7 linked regions of the Homo sapiens genome follow. The protein of the gene in region 3 interacts with the protein of the main gene of each other region in a pairwise test. Each region holds a gene or a part of one and is shown on either strand. Other genes may lie near its edges.

Region 1 (3,500 bases), on a different chromosome or scaffold from region 3:
TTAACTGAAGCAGTTCATTCTTTGGGAGTAAATGATATTTTGGAGATAAAATTTTTTGAAAATCGGGCAAATGGCCAGTCAAAGGGGTAAGTTTTTTTTTTCTTTCTTTTTGATTTAGTAGCTAGTGATACAGTTTTTACAAGTTAACTTTCCTTTAAGTTAATGTTAATTACACATGTATACACATGTATACAAACAACACATGATTGTTTACATTGGAAGGAGGTTCTTGGGCAAAGATTGATACTTTTCATTTTACGTACCCTATTACCTAACACACTAAAACCAGTAGAGTGGAAATGTGGACAGATTTATTTTCTATTTTTCCCAAGTTTTCTCTATCTGTGGTTGAAATGGTTGTTGAAATGACAGTTTAAGAACCATTACTCTCCCTGTGATTAAGAGATGGGAGAAGATGGGCAACTGAATAATGTGTTACATGGATATTTTGCTTTATTTCACTACTAAACTATACAAGTGGGATAGCCTCAGCATGAGAACATTATAAATACAGATATCTAAAAGTAAGAAAATAAAATACCACTGTCCTACCATTCATTGATGTTTACTTTTAACATTTTAGTGAAGATTCTTTTGGGCTTTTTCCTAAAAATAAATAAATAAATAAATAATGGAATTATAATTCATGTGTTTTATATGTTTGATATAAGGAATAAAAATAAATACACATCCTCTCTAATGTCTAATTCTTTTGCATCATACCTGGTATGCTACTGTAATTTACCTTTCTTATTTTTGGTTATCGTGGTGGTTTCCACTTTTGCCTATTGTAAATAATGTTGCAGCAGACATCATTTTATATAAGTCTTTTGGTACAGATTTTGGATTTTCTTTTAAGGATAAATTGTTAGATGCACAATGATAAAGAATTTTCTTATTTCTTATATTGCTTACTTATCTTAGAAGATTATACCAATTTATACTAAACTGAGAATATTTTCAAAATATATGCAGAGTCTGAATACTTCTCACTAACTTTACTTATACCACTTGGTCAAAGCCACTATCATCTCTCACTTAAACTTTGGCAGTAGCTTCCTAACTGGAAGTATAGACTGCCCCCTACAGTCTGTACTCCACATAACAGAAGTTCTAAAAAAAAAATGACATTCTGCTCAATCTTCTCATGGTTTCCTGTCTGTCTCATTCTTTACCATTGTCTACAAGGTACTTTCTGGTCTGTTTTCCCACCACCTTTCTAACCCTATCCTACCACTCTTTTTCAGCCACATTAGTCTCTTTGCTGTTGGCCAGACCAATTCCTACCTAGGACCTTTAGCTGTTTTCTCTTCTTGGTTTACTTTTCCCCCTCAAATATCCACATGGCTTACTCTTTGACTTCATTCAGGACTCAAACTGTTTAAGAGTTTTCTTCCATGACCATCTTGTGCAAAGTAGCACCTTCCTATCCTGTTTCCTTTATTTCTGCTCTGATATATTTTACTCGTTTGTTGTCTCCTCTTCCAAGCCTTTAAGCTTAATGAGAACAGAGATTTTGTTTTGTTCTCTATTACTTCTCCAGCTCTAGAATGGTACCTTGCGTATAAGAAGTGGTGCTTAATAAATATTTGTTAAATTAATTTAGTTTTTTCTAAATGTTGTGACCCAAGATAATCCTGGTGCAAACAGCAGAACTTGTTGACTAAAATAAGAAGGATAATTTAAAAGATCATATTGAACATTAGGGGGAAAAGAGCTTAAGCTTCTTAAGCTACTAAGACCCTCCCTCCCTCAAATAATTTAGAATATCCTGTAACTATACGAATTGGTAATCATTCTGATTATTTTAAATTTGTTTTTCTTTTTGAGGTATAATTCATATGCCATAAAATGCAGGCTTTTAAATGTACAATTCAATGATAATTTATTATATTTATGAAGTTTAGCAACCATTACCACTGTCTCATTCCAGAACATTTCATCACTCCAAGAAGGAACCTTGTACCTGGTTAGCAGTCACTCCCATTTCCTCTCTTCCTATCTGCTGGCAACTGCTAACGTGCTCTGGATATGCCTGTTCTGGACATTTCATCTAAATGGAATCATAAAATACGTAGTCCTATGTGACTGGCTTTTTTCCTTAGCATAATGATTTTAAGGTTCATCCATGTTGAAGCATGCATCAGCATTTCTTTTTATGGCTGAGTAATATTCCACTACATGGATATAGCACTTTTTTCTTTTAATCTATCAGTCGATGGACGTCTAGGTTATTTCCACTTTTGGCTATTAAGGAAAATGCCCCTGTGAATATTTGTGTACCCATTTTGTGTGAACATGTATTTTCAGTTCTGTTGGATGTGTACCTAGGAATGGAATTACTGGGTTAATATAGTAACTCTATGTTTAAATGTTTGAGGAATTACCAGATTATTTGCCAGAGGCATTGTGCCATTTTATTAATACGTGCTCATCAGCAATGTGCAATGGTTCCAGTTTCTCCACATATTTATTTATTTATTTATTTATTGAGACAGAGTCTCACTCTGTCACCCAGGCTGGAGTGCAGTGGCGCAATCTTGGCTCATTGCAACTTCTGCCTCCCAGGTTCAAGCGATTCTCCTGTCTCAGCCTCCCAGCGTGGGACTACAGGCACACGCCACCATGCCTGGCTAATTTTTGAATTTTTAGTAGAGACGGGGTTTCACCATGTTGGTCAGGCTGGTCTTGAACTCCTGACCTCATGATCCTCCTGCCTTGGCCTCCCAAAGTGCTGAGATTATAGGCGTGAGCCACTGCACCCGGCCTCTCCACATCTTTAATACTTGTCTTTTTGATTATAGCCACCCTAGTGGGTATGGGGTGGTATCTTGTGGTTTTGATTTGCACTTCCCCAATAGTTAATGATATTGTACATCTTTTTATTGTAGCAAAAAGTGGAAGCAACCCAAATGTCCATGAACTGATGGATACATTTCTTTTAATGTTGTATATTTATAATGGAAAATTATTCACCCATAAAAGTAAGTGGTGATGCATGCTGTAACAGTGGATGAAGCTTGAAAACATGCTAGTTAAAGAAGGCTGGTCACAAGGGACCTCCTATTGTATGATTCCATTTAGATGAAATGTCTAGGATAGGCCAGTCCAGAGACAGAAATTAGGTTTAGTGGTTCCATAGGGTACAGGGATGGGAAGGAATGGGAGCGATGGCTAATGGATATGGAGTTTCTTTTTGGGGTGATGAAAATGTTTTAAAATTGATTATGGTGGTGGTTATAACACTGTGAAATACTAAAAACCACTGAATTATATATTTTGAATGACTGAATTCTATGGTATGTTATACAAGATGAACAAAAATGTGTACTCGTATAGTTAAGAAATATTTTTAGTTTTTAAAATTATTTATTTTTAGAGACAGGATCTCACTGTGTTGCCCAGGCTGGAGTGCAGTAGTGTGATTATAGGTTACTGTAGCCTCAAACTCCTGGGCTCAAGCAATCCTCGTGCCTCAACCTTCTAAGCAGCTGGGATTA
Region 2 (2,643 bases), on a different chromosome or scaffold from region 3:
ATGCAGATACGTCCGTGCACCGGCACAAACTCGGACACGTGTAGATACACGGGCAAAACGCACTCATGTAGACAAGGACTAAAGCAGCCACCTCAGCAGGCGTGCAGTCACACACGTATACACACCACAGGTGTGTGTGTACAAACGTTGCACTTTAACTTATCTAGATTCAATTAGTGTACACGTGTATGCCACACAAAGACTTTTTTTTTTTTTTGAGATGGAGTCTTGCTCTGTCACCCAGGCTGGAGTGCAGTGGCGCAATCTCGGCTCACTGCAACCTCTCCCTCCCAGGTTCAAGCGATTCTCCTGCCTCAGCCCCGAGTAGCTGCGATTACAGGAGCCTGCCACCACGCCAAGCTAATTTTTGTATTTTTAGTAGAGACGGGGTTTCACCATATTGGCCAGGCTGGTCTTGAACCCCTGACCTCAGGTGATCCGCCCACCCTGGCCTCCCAAAGTGCTGGGATTACAGGCGTGAGCCACCGCGCCCGGCCCAGACACAGACTTATACATGGGCACACACACAGACACACAGGGACACATGCCTGTCTCCAGGCATGCACACAGACCCCCCCGCCAACCTGCAAGGTGTCCCTGTATGACATGGGTCTTGACAGTGACCACGTTTCCCCATCAGGTCCTGCACCCTGCACAGGTGGCCCCAAGCCGCTGTCACCTGCGTCTAGCCAGGACAAGCTGCCCCCACTGCCCCCACTACCGAACCAGGAAGAGAACTACGTGACCCCCATTGGAGATGGCCCAGCTGTTGACTATGAGAACCAAGATGGTGGGTGGGGAACAGAGCTGCTGAGAGCTGGGGGTTGGGGAAACAGGTTAACAGCTGATGTGACACGTTACACTTTTGTCCACGCAGTGGCTTCCTCTAGTTGGCCAGTCATCCTGAAGCCAAAGAAGTTGCCAAAGCCTCCTGCCAAGCTTCCAAAGCCACCCGTTGGACCCAAGCCAGGTTGGGGTCCCCCCCATATCCCACCCTCACCTGATGGCAGGCCAGCCTCAGCCCTCATCTGACTTTTTTTTTTTTTTTTGAGACAGTCTCACTCTGTCGCCCAGGCTGGAGTGCAGTGGCACAACCTTGGCTCACTGCAAGCTCCGCCTCCTGGGTTCACGCCATTCTCCTGCCTCAGCCTCTCCAGTAGCTGGGACTACAGGTGCCCGCCACCATGCCCAGCTAATTTTTTTTTTTGTATTTTTAGTAGAGACGGGGTTTCACCATGTTAGCCAGGATGGTCTTGATCTCCTGACCTCGTGATCCGCCCACCTCGGCCTCCCAAAGTGCTGGGATTACAGGCGTGAGCCACCGCACCCAGCTCATCTGTCTTTATTGTTGTTTTTTGTTTTGAGATGGAGTCTCACTCTGTTGCCCAGGCAGTGGCGCGATCTCAGCTCACTGCAACCTCTGTCTGCCGGGTTCAAGTGATTCTCCTGCCTCAGCCTCCCAAGTAGCTGGGATTACAGGCACCTGCCACCACGTCCATCTAATTTTTGTATTTTTAGTAGAGAAGGGGTTTCACCATGTTGCCCAGGCTGGTCTCGAACTCCTGACCTCAAGTGATCCACCCACCTCAGCCTCCCAAAGTGCTGGGATTACCGGCGTGAGCCACCACACCTGGCCTCATCTGTCTTCTCTTCCAGAGCCCAAAGTCTTTAATGGTGGCTTGGGCAGGAAGCTGCCAGTCAGTTCAGCCCAGCCTCTCTTCCCCACAGCCGGTAAGGGGTCTGCGGGGTCAGTGCGGGGCGGGCTTCCCAGGTGTGTGACCGTACAGTCACACAAGTCCCCACACTCCGAAGCGCCCTGTCTTTTAAGGTTCTGCTGTCTCTGTCTTGAAATTCTTAATGCCTTCGAGCACACTGTCCTGTTGCACGGGGCCCTGCAAATCTGTAGCTGGTCCTGGGTGGCTGTCAGGGCGGTGGGCATGGACTGGGGATCCCTGAGCCAGCTGCAGCTCCTGGTCCTGAACCCCCAGGGCTGGCAGACATGACGGCAGAGCTACAGAAGAAGCTGGAGAAGAGGCGGGCACTGGAGCACTGATTCGGACACACCAGGGACCAGCGGGCTAGTCCCAGGGCATGGCCCAGCGGCCAGATTCTTTTTCCCAGGATTAAAACTCTGACCCCAGGACCCATGTGTCTGGCTTGGCTTGGGGGATTAGGGGACGAGGGGTCCGTCAGATGTCTGCCTACGGATGGCCCCATTTACTCCCAGTGACCCTCAGCTCAGTGAAATCTACCACCATATTCTGTGAGAAAAGCCCATTTTACAGCTGGGAAGGATGAGGTCCCGGTGCCACACCCAGGCCCAAAGAACCAGCACCGCGGCCTCGCCTGGCCAGTGTCTGACCTTTATTAAGAGGTGAGGTGGGGAGAGGGCCCGCCAGGGTGCCCACTCCCTCTTGGTGACCCCCCCATCTGGAGTTAAGGCTCCAAGCAGCAAGTGACAGAGGAGGGTGCCTGGCTCCAGCAGCCTGGGCTTGGCGGCGACTCCCCCAAAAACACCCCAGCTGGGTGGGTGCCTGGGGGCCTAGGTGAGGCTGGTGTTGGAGCTGCTGGTAGCACTGCCTCGCTTTTGCAGGCAGCGCACAGCACTGGGGACCTGCAGGCCTGTCGTCACCTGGAAGCTGC
Region 3 (4,155 bases):
TTTATAATAAAACTGGTCATTCTATTTTATATTCTTCACATAGATTGTGAATAGCTACACTCAAATTACTTAGGTTTCTGCATTAACTGTATTTGCTGGTATAATTTTAAGAAGAAGAAAATACTTGTAAAAATAATGTCACTCACTTGACATAGAAAATTGACCACAGGCCGGGCGCGGTGGCTCACGCCTGTAATCCCAGCACTTTGGGAGGCCGAAGCGGACGGATCACGAGGTCAGGAGATCGAGACCATCCTGGCTAACATGGTGAAACCCCGTCTCTACTAAAAAATACAAAAAATTAGCCGGGCGTGGTAGCAGGCGCCTGTAGTCCCAGCTACTCGGGTGGCCGAGGCAGGAGAATGGCGTGACCCCGGGAGGCGGAGCTTGCAGTGAGCCAAGATCGCGCCACTGCACTCCAGCCTGGGCGACAGAGCGAGACTCCGTCTCAAAAAAAAAACAAAACAAAACAAAAAAAAAAGAAAATTGACCACAAAGAATGAGTTCAATAATGTTCTGAATTTAATAAAGGATTGATTAAATTCTGCTCAGTAGTTACAAGTAACTGAACATTTTTTTCTCAATGGAAGAATAAATTCAGAATATATCAGTTTTTAAAAAACGAATGAGAATATGAATAGCAACTAAAACGATTAATAGGTGCATTCAATGAGAACTTTTTATTTCAATTATCCACAAAACAATATTACAATACTTTATAAAAATATTAAGTTTAGGCTACCATTATTCATTTAAAAAAGTGTGCTAGAAGGCTGTTTTTGCCAACTTCCTTTTTTGGTAAGGGTTAACTTCCACATTAAGACACTGAAGACGAAAAGCTGTTGGAAAATATCTCCAAATTTACAAAGTTGTTTTTCTTGGCAATTTAAAAATACAGAACAATTTAAAATGAATACACATTAAGTTAGTGTTTTATCCCTACTATACAATTGTTATTATATAAGGAACTGCTCCATTCAGTTAAAACCTAATGAATACCATCAACTTTTCCTGCCTTACTTTCCTGATTAGATTTAGTACATAAACGTAATTTTGTCACCCTTTTGAATATGCTTAGAAAAATTACAATATCATAGTTCACATAAAGCCCTTAAAAAATCTCATGTCACAAGTTGTTGATAAGAGGAAATAATGACAGCACTCTTCTTAGGAAGACCCTCTTGGTAGAGAGTGTCAATACTAAGCAGGTTACGTAAACAGAAAAAACAACCACAATTTTTAGTACCAGAACCACTGCCAACTTGCATGAAGTCCATCTTCACATTTTAAAAATGGTTTGAATTTGAACATATATGCCATGGCACAGAATTTCGAATCTGATGATTAAAATCAGGTAAATAATGATAGTTAAGAATTATATCCTGAAAATAGAGGGGCCTAATATAAGGCTTAATTTAAAGTGTGACTATATGAGAGTATTTTAAAACATATACACCAGACCTTCATTTTATTCATCAATTTTTCCTTTGCTAGACACTCAAACCACTAATGCTGCTATTCAAATCTGTATTTTGAAATTACTGAGTTACTCTTAAAAATTAGTCTTATTTTGTATGTTTCACTTTTGCACTTTAGGGTAAAAACTGTCCCCTTTTCACCACCGTTAATATTCAGAATAAGTTTTCCTCCCCAAATCAACCATTTAATGTATTCTAAAAGGGAAAAAATGACCACCATTACATAGACTTTAGAAGTGAATGTAGGCTGGGCGCGGTGGCTCACGCCTGTAATCCCAGCACTTTGGGAGGCCGAGGCGGGCAGATCACAAGGTCAGGAGATCGAGACTATCCTGGCTAACACGGTGAAACTGCGTCTCTACTAAAAATACAAAAAACTAGCCAGGCGTGGTGGTGGGCACCTGTAGTCCCAGCTACTCGGGAGGCTGAGGCAGGAGAATGGTGTGAACCTGGGAGGCAGAGCTTGCAGTGAGCCGAGATCGCGCCACTGCACTCCAGCCTGGGCGACAGAGCGAGACTCCGTCTCAAAAAAGAAAACAAAAAAAAGTGAATGTAGATTCAAACATGATTTGAAAACTGGAGTTCTAAAAATGTTTTACATAAAAACCATATCCCACTGCAATGAATGTGAAGCCATAACTTCATTATTTTGAACAAATACCCATTTAGTGTGTAAGAAAAATTAGTTTTATAGTTATACTTTATAACTCTTCAAAGTCTCAGAATATAGCTAAGTGAGGAGCTCTGAGTGCCAGCAAAGCCATTCTGTCACTCCATGACATCAACATTAAACATTACCTTCCATCCCTCTAACTTGTAAAACTTTCACTTTCTTTTCTCGTATTTCTTTTAAATACATTTTCCTCTCTGTTCATCTATATTCACCATGAGCAAAAGTGCATTCAAGTCCCTGATCTGGTCATATTTTCTATTTGTGGCACCCATCCCCATAAGGACATATAAGCAATACTCACAGTACGAAGTCTAGTTTTTAAAAAGGGCTTTTAAAATGCTGGGTCTTACTTTGCATGCTATCTAAAGATCAAAACATTTCCCCTTTGATTGGACAGTAGTTTCAATTATATATTGCCTTAAAAAATCAATGCAACCTCATACAAGATTAACTCACTTTCTAGTTACCTTCATTATTCTAAGTCAAACTCTTCAGAAAAGGACTGAAGTGAAAAAGTTCTTATTCTTTCAGTTCCATGAACATGAATATTAATGTACTGCATTATACTTTCAAATTCCACTTCTGTGGTCTAACATTTAATCAAGTTTGAGATCCTGTTTATATTCCTTTTGAAAAACCTGGCCCATGTCCATGCAAAAGAAAGCATATATTAAGATTGCATACTGACTGTTTAACTTAGAAAAAACTTTTGAGAATAATAAATGCAAGAAACTTTAAAAAACTGGAATGGAATTATTTGGTCCCATGATATTCCTTAATTTTAGATTTTATTATGGTATAGCTTTTTATCTCTCAAGTTTTATCTGTAACAATAAATAATTTTCTTTGAGCAATTCTGACTTTGGGGAAAAAAAGAAAGGAAATGATTTATAAATAAGCAGGAGCCTCACTGTCCTTCATTACCATGCTGTCACCCACACTGTCATCAGTATCTTAGCTCTATTTTGTTTGGACCCTGAAATACGCTGATAAATTCATCATTGGTACATTAGAGTTTAATACTTGGGGAAAAAAAAGTGGTTTTGTGCAACCATATCTGGGATTCCAGTTTACCATTAAAAACATGCAGAGTAAAGAAGATTTTCTTCTTTTGATTCCTGTAGAAAATCTACACAAGTTCTTTATATTTTGGCAGATTTGTGCATATAAAATAGGCTACTTGAATTATAAATTTTCTCCTGGCTGGTACTGTGGCTCTGTAGCAGTGAAGTAGTCTTCCAAGAAGGACTGAATATATTCAAATGTTGGTCTTTCATCAGGGTCCTTCTTCCAACACAGATTCATCAATTCATGGAGGGATTCTGGACAGCCCTGAGGGCACGGCATCCTGTATCCTCGCTCCACTTGTTCTAATACTTCACGGTTCACCATACCTAATACACAAGATTAAAACATTAAAGAACAATGGTCCTAACTACCACTAGGAAAACATAACAAACCCCCTAGCCACTAACTCATTCAAAGTATATTATTTAGTGAAACAATTCTTTTAACAAAGCAACAAAATAAATTTTAAACATGAGAATATCAAGAAGAGCTTAGAAAATGCTAATCTATGTTTTAACATGTCTAATTTTTCATTCCATCTTATATCTTATTTTTAATACTAATGTCTTCAAAAGCCAACCCCATTTGATTAATAAGAATTTAGGGTGCTACTATGAGGTACTGGTACTTTCTAATATTAACATTTAACAATGACCAAACTTGGGTTACTGAGGAATGGTGGCAAGATCCTGTCTGAAAGAACTTTAAAACAGGAATTCAGAAGAAAGTTCTAGTCTTGGTTTTGCCAAATATACCAACTACATAACTTTATATTGAATTACTTCTGTGAAAGTTTCCTTATCTAATATTACCTGTTTGACTTTCTTCAAGATATTACACATAGTTCCTTTCTTGTATTCCTTTGTAATCCCCCCTTCCTCAACCCCCTGATCAGCAGTTCACCCCATCTTATCACAGGACAGCAAAATGCCTCCT
Region 4 (3,500 bases), on a different chromosome or scaffold from region 3:
TTGGCGATGACCTTGAGCAGTGGGATATAAATAACTCCCACATGCTTAGCGTTCCAATAATGGAACACTAGGCATAAATGGGATAATCTAATATAGTTTTTTGAGACGGCATCTTGCTCTGTCGCCCAGGCTGGAGTGGAATGGTGCAATTGTGGCTCACTGTAGCCTCCGCCTCCTGGGTTCAAGCGATTCTCCTGCCTCAGCCTCCTGGGTAGCTGGAACTACAGGCGTGTGCCACCATGCCTGGATAATTTTTGTATTTTTAGTAGAGATGGAATTTCACCATGTTGGCCAGGCTGGTCTTGAAGAACTCCTTACCTCAAGTGACCCATCTGCCTCAGTCTCCCAAAGTGCAGGGATTATAGGTGTGAGCCACTGTGCCCGGCCATAATCTAATATAGTTTTAAAATATATTTTTAAATAGCACCTAAAGAATTGGGTTGAGCTACATAAAAGTGCTTTTTTTTTGAGACGGAGTCTCGCTCTGTCGCCAAGGCTGGAGTGCAGTGGCGCGATCTCGGCTCACTGTAAGCTCCACCTCTCGGGTTCACACCATTCTCCTGCCTCAGCCTCTGGAGTAGCTGGGACCACAGGTGCCTGCCACCAAGCCCGGCTAATTTTTTTTTGTATTTTTAGTAGAGACAGGGTTTCACTGTGTTAGCCAGGATGGTCTTGATCTCCTGACCTCGTGATCCACCCGCCTCGGCCTCCCAGAGTGCTGGGATTGCAGGCATGAGCCACCGCGCCCGGCCAAATGTGCTATTTTTTAATAGGTGAAAAATAGTAAAATATCAACAGTGTTATATGGTTAAACTGAATATTTATATTGGAATTCAATAAATGTTCTTAAAATGTCTTCTTGTCACCTTTTACTTCAGGATATTTAAAAACTGCCCCAATATGTCTAAGTCTGTCGCTCTAAAACTGGTAAACAGCTTCTCCCCAAACTAATTAAAGGATTCAGTGCTTTTTCCAAATGTCAAGTTCCTATTATAAAAATAAAACATTATATTGTGTAACTAAAATAACAAAGAATTGTATGACATTTCTGGAAATGTAGCAGAAAAGAAGAATTCAAGTTGAATAGTAATATCTTGAACTTACCTTCTTCTGTTGGATTAAACCCACAGATGTCACAAATACAACGAACCCACTTATTCATCTCCTCCTCGCTGTCTGCTACCAAGTAGAAAATCCGGTCAATAGTGTTGATATCAAAAATGTAGCTGTTTTCAAACTCTTTTTTGTTAAATGTCAATCCAGCATCTACTTGTTGACATAAATTTAAATCAATAATACGAATAGGCTTCTTGGCATGATCATTTTTGTAATATTCCAAAACATCTGGATCTCCAGTTAAACGGCCACTGCGTAACACGAACCATCTCCTCTTCCATGCCTAGAAACAAAACAAAAATATCCATTCAGTATTAACTTGAGATAATGTTTTCAAGAAGATGCACATTTATCAAACTGATTTTACAAATGCATTGTTTAGAGAAAGTCACAATATGTGTGTGTTTGTGTGTGTGTTTTTACCACAGGATAATCTGCCACTCTGAAAAGCAACGTTTACTCATAACTCAATTAACTTAATAATGTATATATATATTCAGTATGTTCGATTAAATCTCCTACTATATAATATTGAGGCAATACATCAAGGAGGATTCAGTTTTTACTAAATATGAAAAAGTCATGGTTTCAACAAATGGTGTTAGGAAAACTAGAAATCCATACGCAAAAGAATGAAGCTGGACATTATGCTAAGTGAAATAAGCCAGTCATAAAAAGACAAATATTGTATGATTCCACTTATATGAGGTAGTTCAAGTAGTCAAATTCATACAGACAGAAAGCAGAATGGTATTTGTCAGGCCCTGCGGAGGGGGAGGGGTGGGAAATGGAGAGTTATTACAGTATTTAATGGGCCTAGAGTTTGAGTTGAAGAAGATCAAGTTCTGGAGATGATGGTGGCCATGGTTGCAATGGTGCTGTGAATGTATTAATACTTAATGCTAGTGAATTGTATATTAAAAATAGCTAAAATGATAAATTTTATGTTATGTATATTTTGCCACAATTTTTAAAAAAGCAACAGATTTTCATGCATTAATATTATGCCATAAAGAATACACATAAAGCTGCTTCTTCATAAGACTCCTACAGATTTTAAACACTTAAAAGATTTCTCTTTTTTTTAGGTGCGGTGGCAAGGAGTAGGGAGGGGGAAAGGTTTTGAAGCTTTTCTGGCTTCTTGACTGGGAAGCAATTGATTGTGTCTCTCTTTTAGCCACACAGCCTGTTGTTCAAAGACTATACGAGTAAGACCTGTATTCTTGAGTATGGGATTTAACTCTTTCTAATATTTCCCCTCCTCTTCCCAACAAACATACATGGGCAATCTGTAATACACTCACCACATACCCCCTCCACAAGTTCTGGTAAATTTTGAGTTTAATACTATACCTAGAGAAGCCTAAAAAATTATTTTACTATCACCCTCCCTAAATCTATGGTCACCAAATAATAAAAGCAGAACCAAATGACAAACAGCCTTCCTTATCAGCCTTTAACCCCAACATGTGTGCCTGGAAACAAACTTACACCTTACTCCTCTTTGAAATTCTTCCTCAGGGAGGCAGCTAGACAGAAAAGAGGCCTATTTTAGCAAGTCTCAGTCATTTACTAAGAAACATTCTCTGCTCCAGATTCAACATTCTAGGTAAGACTACCTCAAGAGGACACTCTGGGCCTGGGTGCAGTGGCTCATGCCTGTAATCCCAGCACATTGGGAGGCCGAGGTGGGCAGATCACCTGAGGTCAGGAGTTCGAGACCAGCCTGGCCAACATGGTGAAACCCCGTCTCTACTAAAAAATACAAAAATTAGCTGGGTGTGGTGGCAGGTTCCTGTAATCCCAGCTACTTAGGAGGCTGAGGCAGGAGAATCGCTTGAACCCGGAGTTGGCAGTTGCAGTGAGCTGAGATCACTGCGCTCCAGCCTGGACAGAAGAAGACTCCTCCTCAAAAAAAAAAAAAAAAAAAAAAAAGGGCAGCGGGGTGGTGGGGATGCTCTGGGAAGTGGAAGGACTCGAAAACCCCCAGTGGAATAAAACATTCCCTTTGCTACTTGTGGGAAGAAAAACAAGTATATAATTCATTATTCCTACCTTCAAAGAATTGACTAATTGTGGAAAAAAATATTTAACATACATGAAAATACTTGAGACTACAGCAACCCAGGCAAAATGTCTGCAGAGGTATTGCTACATGAACAAGCATTCCTCTACAGAAAAATTTAGGCAATCCTTTAACAAGAGGATGACCAGAGATCACAAAGGCCTAAAAACATTATATAGGTCTTTAATCATCAACATTTTAAATTAACTTCTCATTCTTCACGCAGCTCAAAGGAATAAGTATATAATTTGTGTCCAGGGAAGGCAGGGTAGAGTCCTATAGATGTTTTAGATAATATTGAAAAGTCATAAAGTGTTGG
Region 5 (3,500 bases), on a different chromosome or scaffold from region 3:
GAGGAAAGATAGCTTAACTTCAGAGGGACGCTCTGACTTCAGGGAAGATTACCTGACCATCCCATCCCCCTTTCCAGCTCCTCTCTCCACTGAGAGACATCCATCGCTAAATAAAATTATCTGCCTCCACCATCCTTCAAGTGTCAGCATGACCTCGTTCTTCTTGGACACCACACAAGGGCTTGGGACCCACTGGATGCAGGTACCCAAAAAAGGCTGTCACACTAGCCCTTTGCCCTTGCTGGTGGAGTGTAGACACCCCACATGACAAGACAAGGGGCCCACTGAGCTGATAACACTGCTGTCCATAAACGGTAAAGCTAAGCTAAGAGGGCATTGTAGCATGCCCTCTGGGATTCTGGGGATCACAGGCACTCCCACCTGGGCACCGCCACAGGGTGTGCATGGAGCTTGCTCCTGCCGGCACCCAAAGCAGCCAGCCTGAACCCACTCGCTTGCTCACGTGCTCCCTCCTGCAAGGGGTTGAGTGTGGCAGGCTGAGTAAACAGGGCACCCCCATTGCAAATCTGACAAAGGGGTCGAGAAAAATCCTGCATCATCAGGTCAAGAAAAACTGATCCCCGAGAGCCAGGAAACAATTGCAATGAGCCCTATTGAAACAACTGCGATGAGCTCTATGTGAGGACAGATCCTTGCAGAGATTTCCAGAATACTGGAAAAGAGAGCTACACACAGACACAGCACAACAGAGAGGGTCCTCGCTGGGTTATTTACCTTTGTAATGATCAGCACAGGCAAGTGAGGAAACACCCCAAGACCAGGGAAAGGTCCAAGGTACACTACAGTCACAGAAGAACGGGAATATTGCCTGTTCCCATTAGCTAGGGTAAAAAAACTCATAATCCACAAAGGAATGGGTAGAGTACACAGAAGGGTCTTGCCTTAGTAGGGGGGAATACTTAATTCTAAACTGTGCATTTCTCTGGTTTCACGTAAATCTTAAAGCAAGACATGAAAGAATCAAACTGTTTCAAACTATTTTAACTATGTACCAGAAAAAATCACAAAATATTTATAGAAATACAAAAATATCTACCACCCAATAAAGTAAAATTCATAATGACTGACATCTAATAAAAATTATCAAGCATGCAGAAACGCAGAAAAATATGATCCATAATTTAGAAAACAATCAAAACTGAGCAGGACTGACATATATTAGAATTAGCAGACAAGGACATTAAGTGTGTAACTAGATTTCATGTGCTCAAAATGTTAAGTACAGGTAGAAAAGACATGAAAAAATTCAAATAAAATTTCTAGAGATAAAAACTATAATGTATAAGATGAAAAATATACTGCATGAAATTAATGGCACATTAGACACGTCAGAAGAAAATATTAGCAAATCTGAAGGCACAGCTATTGAGACTACACAGAATGGAGAAGACAGTAAAATTAAAAAAACAAAAAACAAAAATCAGAATTGAGAGCATCAGTGAGCTGCAGGCCAACTTTAAGAAGATTAACATACCAGTATTTGAAGAGGGGAGAGATGGAAGGGCAAAAAAATTATTTTAAGAAAGAATGGCAGAACATTTTCCAAATTTGATGAAGCTGTGAACACACAGATCCAAACATCTCAAAACACTGATTCACGAGAAACATGAAAACATATTAAGGTATATCATTGCCAAACTGCTCAAAACTGGTGAAAAAAAAAAGTTTTTAAAGCACCCAGAGAAAAAGACACATTGCATATAAAGGAACAATGATAAGGATAACAACAGATTTCTTACTATTAATAAAATGATGCAAGTCTGGCTGGACGCGGAGGCTCACACCTGGAATCCCAGCACTTTGGGAGACCAAGGCGGGCAGATCACCTCAGGTTGGGAGTTTGAGACCAGCCTGACCAACATGGAGAAACCCTGTCTCTACTAAAAATACAAAAATTAGCTGGGCATGGTGGTGCATGCCTGTAATTCCAGGTACTCGGGAGGCTGAGGCAGGAGAATCGCTTGAACCCAGGAGGCGGAGGCTGCAGTGAGCCGAGATTGTGCTATTGCACTCCAGCCTGGGCAACAAGAGCAAAATTCTATCTAAAAAAAAAAAAAAAAAGAAAAAGAAAAAAACAAAAACAAAAATAATGCAAGTCTGAAGACAATAAACAATAATAACAACTGTAATCTAGAATTCTTAGACCTCTAGGCCCTGATGTCTTCTCTGGTGACTTCTACTGAATATTTAAGGAGGAAATTATACCAATTATATATAAATCCTTCCAGAAAATTGAAAAGGAGGAAATGTTTACTATCTAAAAAGGCCGGATTATCTAGATATCAAAACCAGACAAATCCAGACATAGAAAAGATTCCTATGTCCCAATATCCCTCATAAGCACAGATGCAAAAGTAATAAACAAACTACTAGTAAATCAAATCCAACAATATGAGAATACGTCATGACCAAGTAGAGATATCCAGGAATACACAACTGGTTTAACATTCAAAATAAATGCAATTTACCATCTTAATGTTATAAAAGAAAACTACATGATTATTTAAACAGACACAAAAATTGTATGTGATAAAATCCAACATCCATTACTGATTAAAAAAAAACAACCCTTTATAAATTAAGAATAGAAAGGAACTCCTCACTCTGGTGAAACACATCTTATGAGAAACCTAAAGCTAAAATCATGCTAAATAATGAAAGACTGAATGCTTTCCCTCCAAGTTCACAAACAAGAGAAGGATATCTATTCTCACCACTTCTATTCAACCCTGTATTGGAAGTTCTAGCCAGTGCAATAGAGCAAAAATAAATAAAATGTATTCAGATTGTGAAGCAAGACTTAAAATGGTCTTTATCTGCAGATGACATGATTGTCTAATTAGAAAATTCAATAGAATCTACAAAAAAAGCTCTTCTAATAACTGAGTTTAGCAAGGTTACACAATACAAAATCAATATGCAAAAATAAATTATATTTTTGTATCCTAGAAATAATCAGAAATTGAGACAATAAATCAGAAATTGAGACACCATTTATAACAGCATAAAAATGAAATAATTAAGGATAAGCCTGGCAAAGTATGTGAAAGACCTATACACTGAAAACTAAAAAACACTCATAGAGAGAAATTTTAAAAGATCTAAACAAATGAAGAGATATATACCACATTCAAAGGTTGGAAGACTCGATGTTGTTAAAATGGCAATTCTCTTCAAATAAATATATAAATTCAATGTGATCCTAATCAAAATCCCAGTAGACTTTTTGTAGAAATTAACCAATTTAATTTTTAAAATTCACATGAAAATAGAGCTCAGAATAATCAAAATTTTCTTAAAAAAGAAGAAAGAAATCAGACTAATGCTACTTTAGTTTCAAGAAAGAGATATATAGATCAATGCAACAAAATAGAGAGTCCATAAATAAATCTACACAGATATGTATTTTCATGAGAGTCCAAAGGGAAAGCTGTGGAACATGAATAGTCCCTTCAACAAAGGATGATGCTTTCTCTGTA
Region 6 (3,500 bases), on a different chromosome or scaffold from region 3:
ATTTAAGTTGTTTCTAATTCTTTCCATGAAAATAACACTGGGAGACTACCACTATGCATTCAATTCTCACCATGTGCCTAGGAGACAGGAGCTGCCGTGATTCTCATTTGATAGATGAGGAAACTGAGGCTGAGAACTTGCCCATTGTCATGCAACTAGCAAACAAATGTGTCATCCAGGACACTGGCCTCAGAAGGGGTCCTAACTGGGTTGAGTCTCTGCTCACCTCGGTGCTGTGACCTCGGCCGTCCGTCGTCAAGTTGTCTGAGCCTCTGTGTCTGTTTCCAACCACAGCTGAAACGCTCACGAGAGACCGAGGTTCAGCTGAAGCCCCTGGTGGAGAAGAACAAGCGGATGAACAAGAAGAATGAGGATCTGTTGCAGAGTATCCAGAGGATGGAGGAGAAAATCAAGAACCTCACGCGGGAAAACGTGGAAATGGTGAGCTGTGGACCCCTTGGGGACAGCCCTGACACTCCCTTCTCTGTCTGGGATTCTTCAGCCCTGAACCTCCCGATTCACATGTTCTGGGGCGCACCTGCTGCCCACCTCCCCACAAAGCACCAGGCACAGTGTCAGTCACAGATGTCTCGCCTTTCTCTCCACCTGTCTCACATTCACTGTGCTGTGGGTGTTTGTGCCCAGAGGGAGTCAGACAGCTGTGTCCTTAAACACATCCCCCATTCTCTCTGAGCCTCTGTTTCTTCATGCATAAAATGGGAATGAAAATATCCACACTGGAGGATCATCAAGAGGATGAAATAACAGCATGTAAAGACCTCACAGGGAACGGGCCCAGAGGACACCCAGCAAGTGAAAGCTGTTACAATGATCGCTGGCGATGCTCTGCAGAGGGGTTTCTCCTCCAGCTAGGATGCCTGGTGTTTGTGGTCAGGGCAGGCGTCTTGTAGTTGACAGTTTACAGAATGATTTCAGGTTCATTGTTCAGAGTAGTATCAACCCCCACTTCACAGCCGGGAAGACGGAGGCTCTGTCACCACACATGCTCTGCTGTCTGCACTGTAGCAGATGCAGGTGTGTGTGTGTGTGTGTGTGTGTGTGTGTAATTGCTGTTGTGTGAAGTCCTCTCCTTCCCCTGCCTTCCCCTCCCAGGTTTCTAGGCTCATTTCAAATGTCGTCTTCCACCCCCAGGCCCTGCGCATCCCTTCCTGTCAGCAGTGTGCATGGTCAGCCCCACCTTGGGCTTGGCTTTGGTCTGCCCTGTCCCCTCTTCCAGCACAGGACAAGGTGGCCACGTATTAGTCCATTTTCACACTGCTGATAAAGGCATACCTGAGACTGGGTAATTTGTAAAGAAAAAGAGGTTTAATGGACTCACAGTTTCACGTGGCTGGGGAGGCCTCACAATCATGGCAGAAAGCTAAAGGCACATCTTACTTGGCGGCAGACAAGACAGACTGAGAGCCAAGTAAAAGGGGAAAACCCTTATAAAAACATCAGAGACTTATTCACAACCACGAGAATAGTATGAGAGAAACCGCCACCATGATTCAATGATCTCCCACCTGGCCCCTCCCACAACACACGGGAGTTCTGGGAGCCGCAATTCAAGATGAGATTTGGGTGGGGACACAGCCAAACCATATCAGGCCATCATCTCTTTCATCCTCCCATCCATCCTTCTGTCCCTGCACCCCTGAGCTCCACTCCAGCACTGTCCCTAACAAACACTGTTGGCGGGTAACCCTGTGGTGGTCTGTCTCCCTGTGGCTGCAGAAAGAAAAGCTGTCAGCGCAGGCGTCTCTGAAGCGGCATACCTCCTTGAATGACCTCAGCCTGACGAGGGATGAGCAGGAGATCGAGTTCCTGAGGCTGCAGGTGCTGGAGCAGCAGCACGTCATTGACGACCTCTCACTGGTACATCTAGCACAGCTGGCGCGGCTGCCCCTGGCAGGGGTGGCACCAGCTGACATGGGTGTCAGGAACGGGTGTTGGGGCTCAGGGTGATGCTGCTGAGCTGGGTCAGGGTCAGGCAGTGCTGACTTTGGGACTCACCAAGCTCACCCTGGTGTGCACATTCCCGCTTCATTCTGCCACTAAGCAGCCTTGGCTTAAATGAGATCACTGGTACTTGGGGACAGTTTCCATGGCTACCCTTTTCTCACATCTTCTCCCTAGCTTGCTGTGATTGAGAAGCATCAGTTTTAAGGATGTCTTTTGGCCTTTAGAGACTGGGCATGATCTGTTCCAGAGAAGGCTTTTTGTTTGTTTGGTTGGTTGGTTGGTTGGTTTTTAGCTTAGCAGTTGCAGACTGTGAGTTTAGGCCCACAAACTTGAACCTTATAACCAGACCAGCACCTTGCTAAGACTGCCTGTGTGAGTTTTGGACGTGTATATGGGGCGTGCATCTATCAAAGGGGGTTGAGTATGTCCTAAGCGGTGGAGAATTGCATCCAGAGAATTCCACAGCTCTCTGTGAAAGGAACTTCGGCAACAGGCAGAGAACACCTGCAGGGAGCTTTAGTTGGATCTTAGAAGTAGAACGTGTTCTGCTCACCAAAGTGGGTGTGTGATGGTTCCATGCACTGGTTTTCAAAGAATAGAAAAGCTAGTGATCAAAATTCTAGAAAAGGCTTTGATTATAATTTTCATGTTCATTTTGCCTGCCTCCATCTCCCTCTACCTCTTTAACTTCTCTCTTTCTTCCTTTCACCCATCCATCCATCCATCCATCCACCCACCCATCTGTCCACCCATCCATCCATCCACTCACCCATTCTTTCATCCTTCCATCCACTTATCTATGCATACATCTATCTATCCATCCATCTTTGCTTCATTACACAAAAGACTCAATGCAGCTTAGGATGAAAAATATATTTCAGTGAAATAACAATAAAGTCAAAAGGTGGATAATAAACTCTCCCTGTAGCTCTCAGTTCAGAGAAGCAGCCATCACTTGGGCACTTAGAACTTCAACTAGCCATGCCTGGTGCGGATGGGCAGGCCCAGCTCCCTTTGAGAGCCAGTGGCTTTGGTTTGTGAGATGTGAGGCTGGCTGGAAATGCCAACCGTTGTGTTTCCTTCTAGGAGAGAGAACGGCTGTTGCGCTCCAAAAGGCATCGAGGGAAAAGTCTGAAACCGCCCAAGGTGAGCCTGCGATGGTGCACCTGCCCTACCTTGCCGCTGTGTCACGGATCTGCAGGGCAGATGGGTCGTGGAGTGGGGAGGTTTTACAGAGGGGTCCTGAAGCAGACACACACATCTCTGCATGCCTGATGATGAAAAGCCTGTCATCACCGTCTCTCAAAGCAACATAAATATGGCCGTGTCATGTGACCCAGTTATTGTAATTTATTCATGGAAAACTTCCTGATGTATTCTCCACTTAGGCTTCAGGGTATATTCACCCAAAATTAAAAACATAAATACTTAAACCTTTTGAAGGATTTAAGGGACATTCAGGGTTGGTTTATATGAGAGCATATCCTGTTCTAAAAAAATCAGGAGCTTTGTGTTTTTTTGGAATCATGCAGAAC
Region 7 (2,341 bases), on a different chromosome or scaffold from region 3:
TCCCTTACCATTACAAGAATATACATGGAGATAACCTGAAGGTAATTTCTCTGGTAACTGGGGGTAAAAGGGTGGGCACCTGTGTAGATAAAGAGTAGTTTTGATGGGGCAAGAAGGCCTCTCTCTCCAACCCACACCTAGGTATCTGTGCGCCAATGGTGTGGCTGCTGCTCCATTTTTGTGTCTTCTAGTCTAAGGACACACCTTGCTGGAGAAGAGCACCATGCTAAAACAGGAACCAGATGCTCTAGCAGTTGAAAGATCGTCAGAAAAATCCAGGTAATCAGCAACTTAGACCAAACCCTTGGAAAGACAGAGACTTCCTGAGATTCGGGGATGCATGCTGTTTTACTACTTCCTCAGCATTCACTTGACTAAGGCTCTCCTACATGGATGAGCTCTATGCAGCCAGGTGAAATCCATCTTAGGCTTCCTCTATCATTATGCAAATGCAGGTAATCAAGCATGACTGGCAATAACCACTATCAGTATACAAGATGTTGCATCACTTTACTTTAATTGCATGATTTATCAGAACAACTATTAACATACGAAGTACCATTCAGTTCAGCTGCAGGTATAGGCAGTGACAAGTATCTAATTCTTAGAAGAATCACTTACTCCCACAATCTGTCCAGACACATTAATCTAAGGACAAGTTTATAAATAGCAAACGTGATTTTCACATTGCAGTGTTCTCAAGAATGTATATACAAGTGTGTAGTCCTGTTGATGGGATGTTTCCCCGAGTTCTTTCTATTGATGCGTTCATGCTCTTGACCCTGGTAGAGACAGTTCTTTCTTTCCACAGAGCAGATTTTCTTTTGTCATCCACCATTTACAATACTCTGTGAATTAGTATTACTTATTACATTTATGAAACGGCAATATTTGGATTGTAATAGCTCTTCAGTACAATTCCTTGTGTCTTCTGGTAAGTCTCTGCACTATCAGAGAGCTTTTAGTTATAATCATTTTCCTGCAACAACAGCCAAACTCAACTATTGAGTTTCAGTGTGACACACCCTCTTTGTAGCTTGCTGGGTTAACCCTTGGCTTCAAGTCCTGATGATGTAATGAGGGTGGGGTGTATTGGCAATCAGTACATTTCCTTATCGCAATTTACAGTCATTGAAAATCATGCTGTCATTAATCCCAGTCTGACATACCTTTTCTAAAATGTTCACAGTGCAGTGTTTTTGTGGCCTAACAAAATTTTTCTCATATCATTAAAAATAAACATTTTTATAAAAAATATAACACTTTAAATGTTTACGTCGACAAAACCAGTTAGAGTAACCTACACCACATGCACTATACAGTAGCAAGCACAAAATTCCACAGAATGAAGCATCACAAAGTTCTGCTCAGGGTGGCTATTCCATCTAGGTGAAATAGCTGGGATTTTCAATTGCCTTTTTCATTTGTTTCTAAAGTATGTTTTGCTTAACATAAAACACACCCTAATGCAAAATAAAACTCCCCAAAAGTTTTGTTTCCAATTGCTTGCGAGGTGGGAACCTGCCACCGAGACAGAGGCTAATCTTTTCAATCCATCCACCCTTTCTTTGCTCTACCTATGAGCTGTGATTGGAACCAATGAACCTTTTAGTAAAATGTATCCTGCTTTACAAACATGCTGAGTTATCTTTAAAAATATTTATCAACAAATTACTTGTCTTATTTTGAGTTTTCATTTAAAAAAATACACACAAAACATCTACATGTTCACATTCATTAGATCAGAGTAGCATCATTCTCAAACAGTGGGTTTTTATATGACAACTAAATATTTCATGATGACTAAATTATTTCATACAAATTTTCTTAATGTCATCTATGTACATTACATCCTGTTCATTTATAAACATGTTTTGTGTGATGCTATTTTGAAACTTTGACTGTATTGCCTATAAATATTCTTCCAACCAAAGGAATGTCTATACAAAAATTTATAAGGGCTGGGCGCAGTGGCTCATGCCTGTAATCCTAGCACTTTGGGAGGCTGAGGTGGGTGGATTTCTTGAGTCCAGGAGTTTGAAACCAGCCTTGGCAACATGGCAAAACCCCGTCTCTACAAAAAATACAAAAATTAGCCGGGGATGGTGGTGTGCGCCTGTAGTCCCAGCTATTCGGGAGGCTTGAGCCTGGGAGGTGGAGGTTGCAGTGAGCTATGATCACACCACTGCACTACAGCCCTGGCAACAGAGTGAGATCCTGTCTCAAAAAACAAACAAACATTTAAAAGGGAATGTTTACCTAATGGGTGAATGACACCATCAGTAATGAAAAATGTTATTGACCATACAACACACAAAAGTGTTTTGAAACACTAGAATTC

What was found.
Region 1: the proteins of YES1 (region 3) and CPSF6 interact in binary tests that used the Homo sapiens proteins (3 or more experiments, as listed by UniProt).
Region 2: the proteins of YES1 (region 3) and STAP2 interact in binary tests that used the Homo sapiens proteins (3 or more experiments, as listed by UniProt).
Region 4: the proteins of YES1 (region 3) and GAB1 interact in binary tests that used the Homo sapiens proteins (3 or more experiments, as listed by UniProt).
Region 5: the proteins of YES1 (region 3) and ZNF438 interact in binary tests that used the Homo sapiens proteins (3 or more experiments, as listed by UniProt).
Region 6: the proteins of YES1 (region 3) and JAKMIP1 interact in binary tests that used the Homo sapiens proteins (3 or more experiments, as listed by UniProt).
Region 7: the proteins of YES1 (region 3) and MET interact in binary tests that used the Homo sapiens proteins (3 or more experiments, as listed by UniProt).

Annotation. Positions count from the first base shown.
Region 1 is NC_000012.12:69,253,069-69,256,568, forward strand, and holds part of CPSF6 (cleavage and polyadenylation specificity factor subunit 6), read left to right. Parts: coding exon 1-86; intron 87-3,500. UniProt on the Homo sapiens protein: Component of the cleavage factor Im (CFIm) complex that functions as an activator of the pre-mRNA 3'-end cleavage and polyadenylation processing required for the maturation of pre-mRNA into functional mRNAs.
Region 2 is NC_000019.10:4,323,543-4,326,185, reverse strand, and holds the end of STAP2 (signal-transducing adaptor protein 2), read left to right. Parts: intron 1-640; coding exon 641-790; intron 791-877; coding exon 878-970; intron 971-1,518; coding exon of another isoform or gene 1,519-1,656; coding exon 1,657-1,731; intron 1,732-1,988; coding exon 1,989-2,053; 3' UTR 2,054-2,143; downstream 2,144-2,643. Other genes in the region: FSD1 (fibronectin type III and SPRY domain-containing protein 1), read right to left, coding at 2,543-2,643. UniProt on the Homo sapiens protein: Substrate of protein kinase PTK6. May play a regulatory role in the acute-phase response in systemic inflammation and may modulate STAT3 activity.
Region 3 is NC_000018.10:721,088-725,242, forward strand, and holds the end of YES1 (tyrosine-protein kinase Yes), read right to left. Parts: intron 3,546-4,155; coding exon 3,337-3,545; 3' UTR 501-3,336; downstream 1-500. UniProt on the Homo sapiens protein: Non-receptor protein tyrosine kinase that is involved in the regulation of cell growth and survival, apoptosis, cell-cell adhesion, cytoskeleton remodeling, and differentiation.
Region 4 is NC_000004.12:143,413,376-143,416,875, reverse strand, and holds part of GAB1 (GRB2-associated-binding protein 1), read right to left. Parts: intron 1,400-3,500; coding exon 1,105-1,399; intron 1-1,104. UniProt on the Homo sapiens protein: Adapter protein that plays a role in intracellular signaling cascades triggered by activated receptor-type kinases. Plays a role in FGFR1 signaling. Probably involved in signaling by the epidermal growth factor receptor (EGFR) and the insulin receptor (INSR).
Region 5 is NC_000010.11:30,878,366-30,881,865, forward strand, and holds part of ZNF438 (zinc finger protein 438), read right to left. Parts: intron 1-3,500. UniProt on the Homo sapiens protein: Isoform 1 acts as a transcriptional repressor.
Region 6 is NC_000004.12:6,078,550-6,082,049, reverse strand, and holds part of JAKMIP1 (janus kinase and microtubule-interacting protein 1), read left to right. Parts: intron 1-294; coding exon 295-441; intron 442-1,737; coding exon 1,738-1,878; intron 1,879-3,051; coding exon 3,052-3,111; intron 3,112-3,500. UniProt on the Homo sapiens protein: Associates with microtubules and may play a role in the microtubule-dependent transport of the GABA-B receptor. May play a role in JAK1 signaling and regulate microtubule cytoskeleton rearrangements.
Region 7 is NC_000007.14:116,796,537-116,798,877, reverse strand, and holds the end of MET (hepatocyte growth factor receptor isoform b preproprotein), read right to left. Parts: 3' UTR 501-2,341; downstream 1-500. UniProt on the Homo sapiens protein: Receptor tyrosine kinase that transduces signals from the extracellular matrix into the cytoplasm by binding to hepatocyte growth factor/HGF ligand. Regulates many physiological processes including proliferation, scattering, morphogenesis and survival.